2 separate regions of the Homo sapiens genome follow, and region 1 is linked to region 2. Evidence: fine-mapped expression QTL. A gene starts in region 2. The other region holds a variant in brackets. All regions are shown on one strand. Distances are between the middles of the regions.

Region 1 (2,902 bases), 54 kb before region 2:
CTAGCCAGAGACCTTGGCTTCTGGTTTCTCTTTCAATTTACCCAACTTTCTACCCTTTCTCTGGCCATATGCCCAGAAGAGTGACCTTGGGACCCACTGCCACACCTCTCCTGGTCCTGCCTCCATGTTTCTGCCTACAAGTCCTGGGAACCGGAAGGGACGACTTTTGGGCTTTCAGTTTCTGCAGGTCATATCCTCCTACTAAAAGGCAACAAGTCTCACGGCTTGACTGAGGTTGGCATAGGGGTATCTTCTTTCTCTCATGGAAGAGACATTGTGATCTGAGATCTTTAGGATTTATATTTAATTTGCTCAAGAACTTTGGAAAAACCTTCCCTGCTCCCAAGCAGATGGCTACAGGCTGCCCAGGGAAAAGGTCGTCTGTATGGAAATACAAGAGAGGAAAGCACATTTGCATTCTTCTTAGTGTTTCTGCTGTTCCACATGGATTTTCTCGGTTACTGTCAGGACAACCTAGGAGGTAGTCACTACTGTTCTTTAATTTTTACAACTGGGAAGATTAAAGCACAGAAAGATCACATAGCCCATGCCTGTAGTGCCAGCTACTCAGGAGGCTGAGGTGGGAGGATGGCTTGAGCCCCGGAGGTGGAGATAGCAGTGACCCGAAATTGCGCCACTGCACTCCAGCCTGGGTAATAGAGCAAGATCTAGTCACAAAAAATAAAATAAAAAATAAAATAAAATAAAGGAAAAGAAAAGAAAAAGAAAAAAGAAATTGAAGATAACATCTTGATATATGTCCCTGAGTTGTTTTTCGGAACCTCGGGCCCCCATCACAAGGATCAGCTGGCATGTAAACCTCAGATAACGGGGAACTGAAGGTTGAACTCTGACCTCTGCTCTAAATTTCTTTTTGAGGGGCCCAGAGGAGGTCATGTCCACAAGCAAGAGTGAACATTCCTTTCTGTTGATCTCAAAGTTTTAGACAAAGCTTCACCTCCTTAACTAATCGTTAATCAGAAAATCTCTGAATCCTGGCTGGGCCCGGTGGCTCACGCCTATAATCCTAGCACTTTGGGAGGCCGAGGCGGGCAGATCACTTGAGGTCAGGAGTTCGAGACCAGCCTGGCCAACATGGTGAAACCTCCGTCTCTACTAAAAATACAAAAATTAGACAGGCATGATGGCGCGGACCTGTAATCCCAGCTGCTCGGGAGGTTGAGGCACGAGAATCACTTGAACCCGGGAGGCGGAGGTTGCAGTGAGCCGAGAACGTGCCACTGCACTCTAGCCTGGGCAACAGACGGAGACTCTGTATCAAAAAAAAAAAAAAAAAAAAAAAAAAGAAAATCTCTGAATCCACCTACGACCTGTGCCCCCACCCCCACA[A/G]TCCCGGGACTTGAGGATGTCCTGCCTTGATTTATGACTTTGCCTGTAACCTCTACCTCTTTGCCTTTAAAAACCCTTACCTGTAAGTCATCATGGAGTTCCAGTCTCAAGCATTAGCTGGCCAATTCTCCTGGCTTGGTGTCCTGCAATAAATGTCTCACTTTCGCTGCTATCCCGATGTCAGTGTTTGGCTTTGCTGCTCCAGGCAAGTGGGCCCTAGTTTGGTTCACTAATGTGACCATGTAATCTGGTGCCAGTTTCCTCTTTAGACTGTAAATTGGATCTTCTCTCTCCAGTTCCCTGTCAAGGCTTTGGCCTAGACCCTCATCATTTCATTTCTGGATTCCTGCCCCAGTTTCTCAATCAGCCTTTTATTGCTAGTCATTGCTTCTGAGACATTTTTCCATAAATGCCAGGCTATTCCTTCTCAAACTCTACTTTCTTCATGTCGTCGCAATGGCCTTTGGCTCCATATCCCCTGCCGCAATGCTCCTGGATTTTTGTTTTTTATTTTTTATTTATCTTTTTAGTTTTTTGAGACGGAGTCTAGCTCTGTCTCCCAGGCTGGAGTGCAATGGCACCGTCTCGGCTCACTGCAACCTCCACCTCCCGGGTTCAAGTGATTCTCCTGCCTCAGCCTCCCAAGTAGCTGGGATTATAGGTGTGAGCCACTGTGCCCGGCCTATTCTGGACATTTTATATAAATGGAATCATACAATATATAATATGTGACCTTTGTATCCATAAACTTAACTAACAGGTCTTCAAGTTTCGCCAGTGTTATGGCATGTATCAATACTTCATTCCTTTTCACTGATGAATCATATTCTACTGTTTGGATATACCACATTTTGTTTATCCATTTGTCACTTGATGGTGTCAACCTAAAAGGAAGAAGCTGGGGCAAAATGAATATACGTAGAGAGTTTATTTGGGCCAAGCTTTAAAATTGTTATCTGAGAGCACAGATTCAGGTTGCCCTGAACATAACATTCTGCCTAGCAGCAGTTACAAGTGGATTTTTTTTTTTTTTTTGGAGACCAAGTTTTGCTCTGTTGCCCAGGCTGGAGTGCAGTGGCGTGATCTCAGCTCACTGCAACCTCCACCTCCCTCCCAGGTTCAAGAGATTCTCCTGACTCAGCCTCCTGAGTAGCTGCGATTACAGGCACACGCCACCATGCCCAGCTAACTTTTGTTTGTTTGTTTGTTTTTAACTTTTGTATTTTGAGTAGAGACGGGGTTTTGCCATGTTTGGCCAGGTTAGTCTGGAAGTCCTGGCCTCAAGTGATCCACCTGCCTAGGCTTCCCAAACTGCTGGGATTACATGCGTGAGCCACCGTGCCAGGCCTACAAGTGGATTTTTAAAGTAAAAATTTGTCTTTATATCACAAATCCCAGGTACATGAAGATAATAGGTGAGCCAGCTAGTCAGGAACAAAGTGACTTTAAACAATTGTCCCCAGGCATGCGGTGGGGGCTGGGGAGATGATGACTGAAGTCCCTATTCATGTCTCTCTGGGCCTGCTCTGAGCTATTTTTCTTTTCTCAGTAG
Region 2 (2,879 bases):
CCCAGAAAAACAACGCGGGACTCCCGGCTAACATACCACACAGGGACAATCTGGGGCAAGCAAGGAGGAGAAAGGGCCTCGCTGGCTCCCTAACCTCCCCGCCACGTCCAACCTCTATCTCCAGGGCCCAGCGCGCAGCGGCCAATTCCTGCCTCCCCTCCCCGCCCCCACCCCTCCCCCACTCCTCCCCAATCTTCTGCGTCACAAAACTTTCCACTCCGGAAACGCAGCCTCCCCGGCTGCGGCGCAGGGCCCCCGGACCCTGCGGAACCTGGGCTGAAGCGAAAAAGCCAGCGGAAGGAACCCGGGAAAAAACAAGAAACCCATTCCATCCTCCTTTCCAGGCCTTCGCCCGCCCGAGACCCGCCGTCTCCCGGAGGTGAGCCACAGCGCCGCCCAGCACCACACAAAAGAGGCCGCCGCCATTACCCCGAGCGAAGGCCGCCCCCTCCCACATTCCTGGGCCGCGTTCTACCCCTTGCTCGCAGGCACGCAAACACCGGGTGCCGCCAGGTCCTCCGGACGGGAATCCAGGCTGCGCCAGCCGTGAAGGCCGAAGCCCTCCAAGCCAAAAGGGCCTCCAGTCGCGTCCCGCCGCGCTGCGCACTCCCGCAAACCCCCCCAGGTCACTAATCAGTCGGGATTCGCGCATGCGCGTCCCCGCGAGAGCGCGCGCACTTCCTCCCCCTCCGCCCGCCTGCGCACGCACACACAAAAGCCGCCATTGTGCTCGTCCCGGGGACAATACAGCGGGCCGAGACCGGGCCCGGGCGACAGCCCCAACCAACATTCCTATCCCTCTATAGCCCCGGGGCACTCACACCCGCCAGCCCGGGGCACCCAGAAAATGAAAAGTAAGGGTGCCGGTTAGCGCTGCGCCATTAGCCAGGTTAGGTCAGGGGAGGAATTCACGCAGCAGCCAGCCCGGTGGGGTTCTTGCGGCTCACCTGCTGGTCCAGCCCGAGCGCATTTTCCACTGCCACATGACTCATCCCTGAAGAGTACCGAGAACTCGGAGTCTTCCGCTGCTAAGCGAGTGTTTGTTCCACCGCGAAGGCCCTCTCACGGGAGAACTGCGGCTCTGGAGCGCACCGCGCGGCCACGGATCTAATATACCCGCTGGAAAGCCGGCTACGTCAGCACGTACAACGTGTGCCCTCCCTCTCACACCGCAATTCCCTGTCGCGGCGACTTCTGCCCGGCTACTGCGCGCTCCCTCAGGTCTAAGCTCAAGGGATTTCCTACTTAGTCCTGTCGCCCCTAGCAGTCCTGCCTTGGAGCTTAGGGTGCGAAATGCTGTCCCAGTTCTCTCGAGCTACACTTCCCGTGCTCTCCGCTAAAACCCTAGTCTCAGCCTCGGAGTTCTCGAGATCTCGCGAGAACTTGCGTCTCCCGCTTTCCACCGGCTAAGACGCCTGAAAATGTTAACCTAGGCCTCTTCGCCCCCCTTTCCAACCTTACGCATTCGCTCCCCTTTCCAACTCTATGCACTCAGCTTTCGTTTTTCGTTTTTTTTGTTTTTGTTTTTTTTTTCCTAACACTGGCCTTCACTCTTCTTCCTCTCTCAGTTCCCGGGCTTGGAGATGTGGTGGGATTTCTCCGGTCTAATCTGCCCTCGCTCTTCCGCGGGTAGCCTCCCCTTAGTGGGAGCTAGGCAGATTCCCGAAACTGAGAGGGCGGCAGGCCACGTGACCGTAGGTGTCGCGTGCGGTGGCCATTTTGTGAAGCAGGAAACGGTGGCTTGAATATAGAGTGCTCCGGACGGGGGAGGGGAGGGGAAGAGGAGGAGAGAACAGAGGGAAGGGGAGGAGAGGGAGGGAAAAGAGGGGAGCGGAGTAAGGGGAAAGGAGGAGGGAGGAGGGTAGGATGGTGACCGGGGCGGGAGTCGGGGGGAAATGGAGGGGAGCCGGCGGCGCGCGCAGGTGGCCGGACACCTTCCTGCGCGGTTGCCTAGGCAGCGGGGGCGCCGCCTAGAAACACACAATGGCCCCTCCTGGCCAACCCCCCGACGTGTGCGCGCGCGCCTCCGCCCCCGCCCCCCGCGGTGAGGGAACAATGAGACAGACACGCGCTGATCCGGAACCGCCGCTGGCGCGCCCTCCCGGGACCCCGGCTCTCCGCAGGAATGCGGGCTACATTTGCCCCTAGTTTCCTCCCGCGGGGCGCCCAGCGGCTTAGGGCCGGTGACCACCGGCGTTGCGGGGACCCCGCGGGTGGCGAACGGCTCTTCTAGGGCCCAAGGGTGTCGGGAATGTTTGTAGCCGGTGCAACCTGGGCCTGCCGGAGGGGCTGCAGCGGGGTTACCGGCCTGGGCTCGGGGTGACTCTCAGGCCGCTGCGGTGGATGAGGAACAGGAGGAACCGGGTTTCTACCGTCGGTGGAACCTCTTCCTGTGGTTCCCTCCTAGGCAGGCCACCCCAAGTCCCGGCTTCGGTGCCGCAGGCCCTTAAATAGAAGAAGGTGTTTACTAGTGGATTCCCGGCTTTGAGCCGGCGCCCGCACATCCGTAGTTTCTTATGACCGCTTTCCCCTCTCTTCTGACCCTCAGCCCTACGAAATTAAATAAAACGCAGTGGTTTCCACCACCCCCACAAAAGGTCTTCTGCTGCCAGAATTCAAATAGTTCGTGCTCATCACATAATTTACTATACACATAACTTCTCTCCCTTCTCAATTTTTAAAATCGAGACGGAAATTCGAACGAGATAGGGAGAGAATATCACACTGTCGGGGGCAAGTTGTTTAACGGCTTTGGGTCTCAATTTGCTCATCTATAAAAGGAGTCTGCTACATTCCATAACCCTGTGAAAGACCCAACTCCTTTTCATAACGAGTATTTTCTAACGCCCCCTTTACCTATACTGAAATAACAAAACCTA

What was found. PIP is the estimated chance that this variant, and not a neighbour inherited with it, causes the effect.
Region 1: its variant is the best candidate, but not a certain one, in a credible set for the expression of DDX3X in T cells (TOPMed, PIP 0.69).

The regions. Positions count from the first base shown.
Region 1 is chrX:41,386,706-41,389,607 of GRCh38, reverse strand. No RefSeq gene overlaps it. Among named protein-coding and RNA genes, the nearest start is that of DDX3X, 54 kb to the right of the region's middle. The variant A/G (reference allele first, on the strand shown) is at 1,351.
Region 2 is chrX:41,332,366-41,335,244 of GRCh38, reverse strand. It overlaps DDX3X (DEAD-box helicase 3 X-linked), which reads right to left and starts at 1,083. Exons shown (of 17, transcript NM_001356.5): 1 at 948-1,083. The coding sequence starts at 992. RefSeq lists an enhancer at 1,453-1,682 and a silencer at 1,773-2,262.